3 linked regions of the Homo sapiens genome follow. The protein of the gene in region 2 interacts with the protein of the main gene of each other region in a pairwise test. Each region holds a gene or a part of one and is shown on either strand. Other genes may lie near its edges.

The links.
Region 1: the proteins of GPHB5 (region 2) and TMBIM6 interact in binary tests that used the Homo sapiens proteins (3 or more experiments, as listed by UniProt).
Region 3: the proteins of GPHB5 (region 2) and GPHA2 interact in binary tests that used the Homo sapiens proteins (3 or more experiments, as listed by UniProt).

Annotation. Positions count from the first base shown.
Region 1 is NC_000012.12:49,739,741-49,743,488, reverse strand, and holds the start of TMBIM6 (bax inhibitor 1), read right to left. Parts: upstream 1,933-3,748; 5' UTR 1,878-1,932; exon of another isoform or gene 1,721-1,877; intron 1,621-1,720; exon of another isoform or gene 1,353-1,620; coding exon of another isoform or gene 1,209-1,352; intron 1,052-1,208; exon of another isoform or gene 882-1,051; intron 73-881; exon of another isoform or gene 1-72. UniProt on the Homo sapiens protein: Endoplasmic reticulum (ER)-resident protein that confers cellular protection as an anti-apoptotic protein by limiting multiple stress-inducing pathways surrounding the endoplasmic reticulum and mitochondria.
Region 2 is NC_000014.9:63,317,244-63,320,991, forward strand, and holds the start of GPHB5 (glycoprotein hormone beta-5 precursor), read right to left. Parts: upstream 1,693-3,748; 5' UTR 1,581-1,692; intron 608-1,580; 5' UTR 607-607; coding exon 403-606; intron 1-402. UniProt on the Homo sapiens protein: Functions as a heterodimeric glycoprotein hormone with GPHA2 able to bind and activate the thyroid-stimulating hormone receptor (TSHR), leading to increased cAMP production. Plays a central role in controlling thyroid cell metabolism.
Region 3 is NC_000011.10:64,934,309-64,938,056, reverse strand, and holds GPHA2 (glycoprotein hormone alpha-2 precursor), read left to right. Parts: upstream 1-2,163; 5' UTR 2,164-2,223; intron 2,224-2,596; coding exon 2,597-2,699; intron 2,700-2,881; coding exon 2,882-3,066; intron 3,067-3,182; coding exon 3,183-3,284; 3' UTR 3,285-3,586; downstream 3,587-3,748. UniProt on the Homo sapiens protein: Functions as a heterodimeric glycoprotein hormone with GPHB5 able to bind and activate the thyroid-stimulating hormone receptor (TSHR), leading to increased cAMP production. Plays a central role in controlling thyroid cell metabolism.

The sequences.
Region 1 (3,748 bases), on a different chromosome or scaffold from region 2:
TCAAGGCGGGCGAATCGCTTGAGGTGTGGAGTTCGAGACCAGGCTGGACAACTTGGCAAAAGCCCGTCTCTACTAAAAATACAAAAATTAGCTGGGCATGGTGGTGCGCGCCTGTCATCTCAGCTGCTTAGGAGGCTGAGGCATGAGAATTGAATGCACCAGGGAGGCGGAGGTTGCAGTGAGCCGAGATTGCACCACTGCACTCCAGCTTGGGTAAGGGAGTGAGACTGTCTCAAAAAAAAAACATAATAATAATAATAAATAAATAAATCGCTTGAGTTCTGGAGTTGGTAAGCCTGGGCAACATGGTGATACCCCATCTCCACAAAAAATACAAAAATTAGCTGGAGCTGGTGACGTCCACCTGTGGTCCTAGCTACTCAGGAGGCTGGGGTGGATCACCTAAGCCAGGAGAGGTCAAGGTTCAAGTGAGCCATGACTGCGCCACTGCACTCTAGCCTGGGCGACAGTGAGACTCTGCCTCAAAAAAAAAAAAAAAAAAAAAGAGGAGGAAGGTACTAAACCATGTTTCCACAACCAGATAAATAACGGAAGAAGCAAACTATGGATCAAAAGTACAGATTGTATTTCTCAAGGGTTCAACTATTCTGTCCCTACTGGAGGAAAGTGGCGGCAGAGAATCTAAATGTCAACATATTCTTTAGGCCAGAACAAAAATATTAGACACAAAGAATAAGAAAACACCAAAGAGTGTAAATACAATAATTACAGAAAAAAGTGTGTATACGCAGGTCATAAGAAATGTGTTTATGCAATTCCGGTATCTTTCCAGAATTCAATTCTTAAACCACACATACAAAAGATAAACTGTAAATAAATATCAATAAGTAACTAGAAAAGTCCATTTGCCATTTATTTACCTTTGACCTTAAAATCCTTGTCTGTTTCAAGCACAGTCAGCCCTTCTACTGGGTTACACATTCACAAGTTGCTAGAACACAGTCTCAAGTTCATAGTGATTTTTGTTGTGGGGGTGGTCAATGAAAGGCTGATGACCCCAAGCAGCCCGGGCTGGCACCGGGTAGTAATTCTACACTCAGTAAATATACAAAGATACCAAAGCCTACTTGTTACCACAGGTCCAGCAAGTAGGCCCAAGATAAAAACTGCCCAACGACGCCCTTGCTGAGCAGACTTAGAAAGACGCCCACAAAACCTCAAGACCAAGCAAAGCAAAGCCACCTCACCTGCCCAAAGGTAACCAATCCGAAAAGAGCGGGGCCGCCCCGTGGGCCTGGAAGGCAGCCCCAGCCCCAGACTCCTCTCACTTCCCGCCTCTGCCGTTGGCTAAGTAACTGAGGAGCCTCGCGTGTCACAGAGGAGTGTGACATCACCCGCCCGCCAGGCCCTACCTCGAGTCTTGGCTCCGGGCCGCTCACCCAGGGTCAGCCCGACCAAAGGACCCGCCCGCAGCCGAACAGCAATCGGATGGGTGGAGTTTCGCGTTCCTTCACCTCGGAAGGACGTGCTCTGAATTCGAACGATCGAAGCTAGGCCAAGGGGCCCTGCGTCTACACTTAGTAGAGGAGAAGGAGCGGGAGAAAGGAAAAGGCGGGCTGAGAAGGGGCCTTCGCCAGCGCTCTGGGGCAGAATAGAGGCCTCGACACCCCCCAAAACCCCCGCAGACTCGCCTCCGCCCCACCCCCGCTTCAGCACTGTTGCGCACGCGCAGCACTAGTTCCCTAGCTTCCCTCCACACCCTGTTTTCCCGAGTCTGGTCTCCGAGCAGGGCCTCGTTCCTTCAGGGTGCCATCTGTCCGCAGAAGGAAGCTACTGCCACTCTTGCTCAGACAGTAACTGCTAACTCCCTTTCCATTTCTCACTCCCAGTTCGCCCAGTACTAGGTTCAGACGTACCTTCCTAACCCGCCTCTCCAAGGCCTACCAGCGCTTCTAACACCGGATGTGCTCTGACTCGCCCACTTCCGCTCCCGATCTTTTACCCGGCGTTCGCCTCTCGAGGGAAACCCCGCCCTGTGGTCCGCTTAAGACCAGTCCTCATTGGCCGTTGGCCGCACTCCTGCCTTTCCATTGGCTGTACGTGCATAAACAGCGGCTGCTTAGTTCAGAGGCCTGAGCTTGTCGATCAAGACTACTGGCCACCAACCGCCTCGAAGCAAAAGGTCTCCGCTTTCTTACCGTAGTAAGCCAGGGTCACGGTGCGCTGCTGCCTCTAGTGGAGAAAGTGAAAATGGGCCGGCCCCGCCCGGGACAGCCCGACGGCTTGTGAAGGGGTAGCGCTGCAGTCTTGGGATTCTGGCTTTAGTCTTGTCATGCAGTGTTAAAGGGGGAAAGCGATTCAGAGAACACATTAAAAAAAAAAAAAAAGCGCCCTCGCAAGGGGCGATTTACTGTGAAACTAGTGGAGCGTAAGCTTCAGAGCACCTTTGAAAACACTTCGATTTCTCTAGAGTATGCGAGAAGGAAATAGCAGGATTCCAGGAGGAAAACCAGAATTTAGGAAACCACTTTCTGGAAAGATAGAACAGTTCTTTTCAGTAAAGAATACAAATATCCAGGGTATGATTCTCAGTAGGCAAACCCAGGTATGCAATTAATAGAAGTTAATTTTCGGCTGGGCGTGGTGGCTTACGTCTGTAATCCCAGCACTTTGGGAGGCTGAGGTGGGCAGATCACTTGAGGCCAGGAGTTTGAGACCAGCCTGGCTAACATGGTAAAACCCCATCTCTATTAAAAATTTAAAAAATTAGCTGGGCGTGGTGGCGTGTGCCTGTAATCCCAACTACTCGGGAGGCTGAGGCAGGAGAATTGCTTGACCCTGGAGGTGAAGGTTGCAGTGAGCCGAGATGGTGCCACTGCACTCCAGCCTGGGAGACAGAGCGAGACCCCGTCTCAAAAAAACCAAAAAAGTTAATTTTCTATAATACAACCTAATTTTTGCTGTAGTGTAGCAGGACAAGCCGCAGACAAAACCCCTCAGACACCGAGTTAAAGCAGGAAGCGGTTTATTCCGCCAGGAGCATCGGCCAAGACTCCTGTCTCAAGAGCTGAGCTCCCTGAGTGAGCAATTCCTGTCCCTTTTAAGGCCTCACAACTCTAAAGGGATCCGCTTGAGAGGGTAGTGATCGATTGAGCAAGCATGCACCGGTAATTAGATCAGAACAGGACAGGGATTTTCACAGTGCTTTTCTATACAATGTCTGTAATCTATAGATAACATAACCGATTAGGTCAGGGGTCGATCTTTAACTACGAGGCCCAGGGTGTGGTGCCTGGCTGTCTGCTTGTGGATTTCATTTCTGCCTTTTAGTTTTTACTACTTCTTTCTTTGGAGGCAGAAATTGGGCATAAGACAATATGAGGGGTGGTCTCCTCCCTTATTCCCCCACTTTGAGACTCTCACTCATTTTATTAGTGGGAGTTCTCACCTTCATCTTCACTACCTATGTCTTCCTGCATGACAGATCGATAGTGATTTATGTAGTACACTTGTGCTGAAGCATTCTGGTGAACTAGAGTAGTGATGAAACCTTTTACCATTTGAATGAGTACAGATAGTAAATAAGGGATCAGTAAGCAGGCTATTACTACTATAATTTTTATTATAAGAGTTTTAAATCCTCCTAGCACTGGGAACCATTTTTAAACATAGCTTCAGGGTCAAATCCGTGTCACACTTGTACAGGCACATGTGCCAGTTTCGTCATGTCTTTAACTATATCTTCGACTACTTGCCTCTGATCATCTATGTGCAGGCAGCAATTGGT
Region 2 (3,748 bases):
ATAGGGAGGAGTTTGGGTCACAAGCTTGAACCACAGATTGATTCCCAGCTTTACACTGACGCTCTACGTGACTTTGCAGCCACTCTCCCTTGAATCCCTCCATGTCATCTGTAAAACGGGTAGAACAGTACATCTTGACCTCCCAGAGATGATTCCCAGATACATAGACACAATGTAAACCAAATTCTTAACCTTATCAATGCTTTGTTAGAGGGGCAACATCATGTTTTTCAAATCACTTTTGGAAGATGCCAATCATAGTTTTGTTTTGGTTTTTTAAGTCCACAGGAAAGGGCAGATGTCCCAGCTCTACCTCATATCATTTAAAAAGTGAACTCTTAAGAATCAGACCCAAGCTGCTGGCCTAGAAGACACTGTCATCTGCACAACTTAGCAACTCACCTCCCAGGTCTCACAGCGACCCCAGCAGGCATCCGTGGTGATCCGAAGGCCCCTGCAGCCTGGCTTCTTGGCCAGGAAAGTAAACTCCCTCACGGCACAGCCCACAAAGGTGCGCAGGTTCCCACTGGAGGCACCGAGGACACAGCCATAGCCAGCCAGAAGGAGGAGGGCCATGGGGCCAAGGAAGAGGAATGCCAGCTTCATGCTGCTCTTCCGGAGAGGGAAAGGACAGAGTTTAACAGATCTGGCTGCCTTCAATGGCACAGCCAACCATGCATTTGTCACTATCAAAGGGACCTTGCTCCTAGCATTTCAGGGAAAATGAGCCCAGAAATTGTAAATGCCCACAAACTCCAACACAGGCATCCAGAGATTCCTGTAACTGGTGCCAGTGTGGATTCCATGGCCCTCTCTAGATGCCCATCCTCCAAGTGCATTCTCAGGCTTTTCCTTATTGTAACTTAACTGCTGCAGTTGACTTGTGTGTTAAAGAAGTTTGTCCCAGTGGTCTTTCCAAAATAAACATAAAATATGAGTAACACCAAAACTAATCCATAATCCAACAGAATACATGAATACATATAAATTATTTTTATTCAGGTCCAGGGTATTTGGGTGCCATGTTACATACTTTGCTCAAAACTATATTTTCAGTGTCATGATGGGGAATGATTTGGAGGGGTTGATAAATATTAATAATAGTATTCCCTATATGCATCGTTACTAAACCAACTCACCACTAAACATGGATATGCAGAAGATATCATGAAACCTATCACCTGAGTTGGTGGCCATTCATAAATGTGTCCTACTCACTGTAAATTGCTTCTGCTCTAGGCTTCCACTGCAACAGCATCTACTTATGATTCAATTTAAATCCAAATGATGGAAAGCATAGGAGTTATTTAAAACATAACCTCAATCCACCGTCAAGTCCACCCTCTCTGGGTCTTGGTCATTCCCCGTGCTCTTTCCGGAGCCAGAATCAACCCCCTTCATGCTTGGCCCACTAGACAGAACTCACGTGGATTTTGAAGTATAAAGGATATGGCATTCATGGACCTTTACCCCCTACTGAATTCATTATTCTCACAGTTCCTACTTCTGACCTTACTGTAGCAAGTTCTCTGGGCTTCCCCTCCTCTGGAATGAGGTTACAAATACGGAGAAGCACTTACCTAATCTTGCAGGAGCCCACTCTTCTTTTAGAGCTGAAACTTGCACTAAGATTTCAGGAAGTCACAATGAATGGTAGAAGTTTGCCCTGGGTAAATGTCTCTACCTTCTGTTACTGGGCTGCTTGATTGCTCAAATATATAGGAAAAGTCTTGTCAATCAAAACAAAAGAGAGGCAGATCCTTACAGGAACTACTAAACACATCAAAGCCATGGAATAGAAAGCCAGTCTCTATTTTCCAAAACTGATTAACTTAAAGGGTGTTGTTTTGTTTCTCAACATCACCTACTGAAATAGAAAGTTACCTTGGTGGGTGGCATAATCCTAAGGAAATAGTCAGAGGTAGTTCCACCTGGTTCTCAGGAGAACAAATGCATTGTGGCAGATGGATTAAATTTTCCTTCATGGTAACCACAAGTTTCCTTTGAAACAGGGGTAAGTGACTAGCAGCTCATGGCAAACCCTTTCCTTTAACCGACAACATGTTTCAATGCACTGAAAAACAACAAAACGATAATTCTTGCTGGAAAGAACACAGGATCACTACCTGAAAAGATGGAAATCACAGTGAGAAGAAACATGTCGAAAGTCTTAAAATTAGCTAAGAATTAGATGATATTAATAACGCCTTAAAATGAATCATTTAGGAAAAAATACCACGATGTTCCAAGTGATTATCTTCCAGCATGGGAATTAAAGAAAACTTTTCATTTCCTTTATATGGTTTTCAGCATTTTTCACATGTTCTACATTGGGCAGACTTTTGTAATAAAGAGTCAGTCAATATCAATGTTTTAAAATTAAAATAAACCAAAAGGTATGCATTTGTTCTGTCTGTAAGGACATTCAGTGCTGCTCTGATAGAGAAGTTTTACAGATTTTTGGTCTTAAATGATTCAAATAAGAACAAAATATTTTTATGAGTATGGGATATAGTTTATATTTCAATCTACAATAACAGCATATGAGTGGATTAAAAATATACTTGTTCATGGCATTTTTCTGGGTGCTCTAAAAAGTAAATGAAGCAGACATCATCTTTGCCCTTAGGAGTTTTGATATCATAGTAAATAATGATGTAGGCAGAGACATTGAAGATGCACACTAACTAACTAGTGAAACAAAGTAAAGAAGTTAAACCATTTCCACTTTCTGCAAAGAAAAGTGTTCTTTAAATAAATGTACTGCTCATTGTAGATTTCATTTTCAAAACAGATAACAATGCCCAGTGAGTCCATCAATTTACCACCCCTCTCTCTAGAGCAGAATTATTATACATGTTTTATAGAATATTGAACTAGGCTTGGAAAAAGGACTTTCTTCAGCGCTTCAGCCTGTGAGTAGCATAACCAGAACTGGAGTACTCTGGGGACGGACTGCTCAGCTGGCCTGATCTTCCTAACTTGCTGGCCAAGAGCTGGCCAGTCGGCAGTGAGCTGCCATCCTGGGCTGTTTCTGAAGACGGCTGCCCAACCCTTTAAGACCTGAAACATACACACTTGTGTCTGCAGAGTCACACAATAAAGACAGATTACAAAGGCCAAGAGCATCTTTCTTTCACAATCCCCAAGTTCTTTATAATGCAGAGATGTGGCATCATGCATTCCACCCTGTCAGCATTAACTTTATAAAAATGACAATTTGGCCGGGCGCGGTGGCTCACGCCTGTAATCCCAGCACTTTGGGAGGCCGAGGCGGGCGGATCACGAGGTCAGGAGATCGAGACCATCCCGGCTAAAACAGTGAAACCCCGTCTCTACTAAAACTACAAAAAATAGCCGGGCGTAGTGGCGGGCGCCTGTAGTCCTAGCTACTTGGGAGGCTGAGGCAGGAGAATGGCGTGAACCCGGGAGGCGGAGCTTGCAGTGAGCCGAGATCCGCCACTGCACTCCAGCCTGGGCGACAGAGCGAGACTCCGTCTCAAAAAAAAAAAAAAAAAAAAAAAAAAAAAAAAAAAAAAACCGACAATTTATAGTCACTAAGCATCTACTATGGTACCATGGAATCTGCTGTGCTCTTACATATGTTATCTCTAGACCTTACAACAATTCTTTATGTCAATTATTATTTTCTCATTTTTACATTGGAAGAAATAGAAACTCAATCGTTTTGTAACCTGCCTACTTCCAAAGCCTTCAACAACACTGGGAAAGGCAAATGGGTCTATTT
Region 3 (3,748 bases), on a different chromosome or scaffold from region 2:
GCCCTGCTCACCCAAGAGACCTCTTCCCCAGTTCCAGTTTGGCCCCAAATGGTTGCCTCTCCATAGACAAAATGTTTCCCACCTCTCTATCCCTTTAACTGTTTGACAGTAATGCAGATTCGTTTATCAGATTAACTGGAAGTCAATCCAGGTTGGCACCCCTGGAGAAGGCCTGGCCACCTGAGCTGCCTTCAACTAAAGGACTGATCTGTAATAGACACTTTAGCCTCATGTGGCCGTGGAGAACCAAAATGATCTATGGAAATGTAGGGAAACTCATTTTAGCTCACAACAAAGGAGTCACTTTTTACCTGTTAGAGATGTCCAATATTAGAATGGGCTACCTCATAAGGTAATGAGCCTTGTCACCCAAATGCTTTAAACAGAAGCCATCATCTGTCACATGCCAGAGGGTGCCCCTCAAGAGTGGGAGAGCAGGGGCTGAACTGCTGAGTTCCCGCTGCGTCCTGTTGCTATGCTGCCTGCACCCTTGGTGGGGAGAAGAGAAGAGGTGGACTGCTGCGGAGGACCTGGCAAACAAGGACCCAGGTCTTGAGGGGATGGGGGCTGATGGGGAAACCGTAGGGTGTGGGAATTTAAGGATTAGTGACATTAGTAACATCACTTCCTCTCAAATTGCGTTTACAGCCTTTACTCGACTGTCCCAAACATGGCCTGTTTTACAAAGCTGCTAAGAAGCACAGCTCCAAATCTGGAGCTGTGAGTGCCCGCCCTGACTCTGACTAGCTTACAGTGAAGCTTTGGGAAGTTGTTTTCCGCTGAGCTCTTATTTTCTCATCCAGAAAATGAGGGGGTAGGATTTGGTGAGTTATAAAGTGCCTTCTAGCTCTAGCAGTCTGTGACTGGCCCTGCTCTTTCTGAGCAGATCAGTGAGGCAATGACCCCAAAGCGGGGCTGCCCAGAATCACCACAGGCTTCCTTTGGCTCTCCACCTTGCCCCAACCCCTCTGGCCACTGCTGCCTGGGGGTCTTTCTCCAGCTTGCCACATTCTTGCTCAAGTGTAGTTTAGCACCATGGATGGACAGCAGATTTGAATTTGAAATCAGCCCTAACATTAACTAGCTGGGTGACTTTTAGTAACTTTCTTTCTTTGAGCCTTAGTTGCCTCATCTATAAAACCAGAGTTGGACAAATAGATCAGCTTTGCTGGGGTTGATAACTTCAGGCCCTTTCAGGAGTCAGGTCCCTGTTATTCCAGGGCTAGGGGAGCACTCCAGCTCAGAACGTTACTCTGTAGCACAGGATGCGAATCATCCACTGATACCGTGGCCATGCAACTCTGAAACAGACAGCAACCCCCAAACCCCCGGCCCTGCCACCAAGCACATCTCAGGAGACCTCCACTGGTATAATTTCCCTTGTCCCTAAGAATCTCCTTCCCCAATCCCTTTCCTTTGCAGTTAGAAAAAGGCAAGCAGGACTGAGTTTAGTGGTTTTAAAATTAGGGGTGTGGCCAGGCACAGTGTCTCATGCCTGTAATTCTAGCACTTTGGGAGGCCTAAGCAGGCGGATCACTTGAGCTTAGCAGTTCAAGACCACCATGGGCAACATGGCAAAATCCTGTCTCTACAAAAAAATACAAAAGTTAGCTGGTCATAGTGGTGTGCCTGTGGTCCCAGCTACTCAGGAGGCTAAGGGGGAGGATGGCTTGAGTCTGGGAGGCTGGGAGGTGGAGGTTGCAGTGAGCCGAGATAACACCACCACACTCCAGCCTAGGTGACAGAGCCAGACCCTCTCAAAATAATAGTAATAAATAATAATAAAGTTAGGGGTGATCAGGCCCTGAACAGGGAAATGTTCTGTCCAAGGTCACAGAGCAAAGAGAACCCAGGTGTCCACAACTCAGCCAAGAGTCTTGACCCCTGTGTCGTCAGCTGCACACACGCTGCACACTCCACCAGCTCCTAGGCTTCTCTCCACATCTGACTTATCGAGGCCTGGGCTGTGGGTAGCTTTTTGGACAGAAAGAAGCAGAAAGCAGCAGGAGCTGCTCTCCGAGGACCGCACCTCAAAGAGCAAGATCCCCCAGGTGGGATCGCTCTGAGGCTTCAGGCAGGGGAGGCTGGTTTGAAAGCCGATCTCCAAGAGGGCGTGGCTCCAAAATGCTGGCAAATAAAAGCCTGGAGAGCCAGCACCAAGCTGGAGACCAGCAGGAGGCACAGGAAAACTGCAAGCCGCTCTGTTCCTGGGCCTCGGAAGTGGTGAGCTCGCTGAGGCAGGAGGAGCTCTGGGGAGGGTCTGGGAATGTGGACGAGGGCCCTGCAGGCCAAGATGGGGCAGATGGAGGGAGGAAGATGTTTGCGCTCCAGATGGCGAAGAAAATTCCAGGGAAGGGAGAATCACTGCACAGAGGGCTGACACACAGGTCCTTTCCAGAGACAGCTGCTCACACTCACACCCATACACACACACACACACACACAAAGGCAGATACAGGGAAAAGGCAGCACCATTCAGGCACACCTCACCTGTCAGACCAGCCAGCCCTGGCTCACTCACCTGGAATGCAGTATTTAAAGAACTCGCCATCCCACCTGCACACCCACGTAGAGACATCTCCCCACTGTGTTTCAGATGCCTATGGCGTCCCCTCAAACCCTGGTCCTCTATCTGCTGGTCCTGGCAGTCACTGAAGCCTGGGGCCAGGAGGCAGTCATCCCAGGCTGCCACTTGCACCGTGAGTACCTCTGGGACCGGAGGGCTAGGAGCAGTGGAGGTTCTGGGTGGGAGCAAAGAGCTGAGTGGACGGTGGGGCAGGCAGCACCCTAAAGGGCCCCACACTGAGGCACAGGCAACGGGAGCTGGGGCGAGGCAAACCTTGGCAGAGGCGCCGTCTACTGCTTGCCTATCTCCTTCTAGCCTTCAATGTGACAGTGCGAAGTGACCGCCAAGGCACCTGCCAGGGCTCCCACGTGGCACAGGCCTGTGTGGGCCACTGTGAGTCCAGCGCCTTCCCTTCTCGGTACTCTGTGCTGGTGGCCAGTGGTTACCGACACAACATCACCTCCGTCTCTCAGTGCTGCACCATCAGTGGCCTGAAGAAGGTGAGGAGGGCCCGGGCCCGGTGGATGGACGCTGGGGTCGCGGGAAGACCAGAGAGATGGAGATCCTAGACAGCCCTGAGAAAGGGGACTGCAGCACGGACTCCCCTCTCCCGCAGGTCAAAGTACAGCTGCAGTGTGTGGGGAGCCGGAGGGAGGAGCTCGAGATCTTCACGGCCAGGGCCTGCCAGTGTGACATGTGTCGCCTCTCTCGCTACTAGCCCATCCTCTCCCCTCCTTCCTCCCCTGGGTCACAGGGCTTGACGTTCTGGTGGGGGAAACCTGTGTTCAAGATTCAAAAACTGGAAGGAGCTCCAGCCCTGATGGTTACTTGCTATGGAATTTTTTTAAATAAGGGGAGGGTTGTTCCAGCTTTGATCCTTTGTAAGATTTTGTGACTGTCACCTGAGAAGAGGGGAGTTTCTGCTTCTTCCCTGCCTCTGCCTGGCCCTTCTAAACCAATCTTTCATCATTTTACTTCCCTCTTTGCCCTTACCCCTAAATAAAGCAAGCAGTTCTTGAATTTCTCTCTTTATTAAGTCTACCCCCAGCCACGGAAAGAGGAGTAGACCATGATTACTGTGAACCCCCCCTTACCCCAGGACACTGTGAATCTCTTCTTGCCTGTGCCCTCCCCCTCCCCCTGCCCAATAAATAAAAAGGGGACAAGGAAGTACACAGCGAG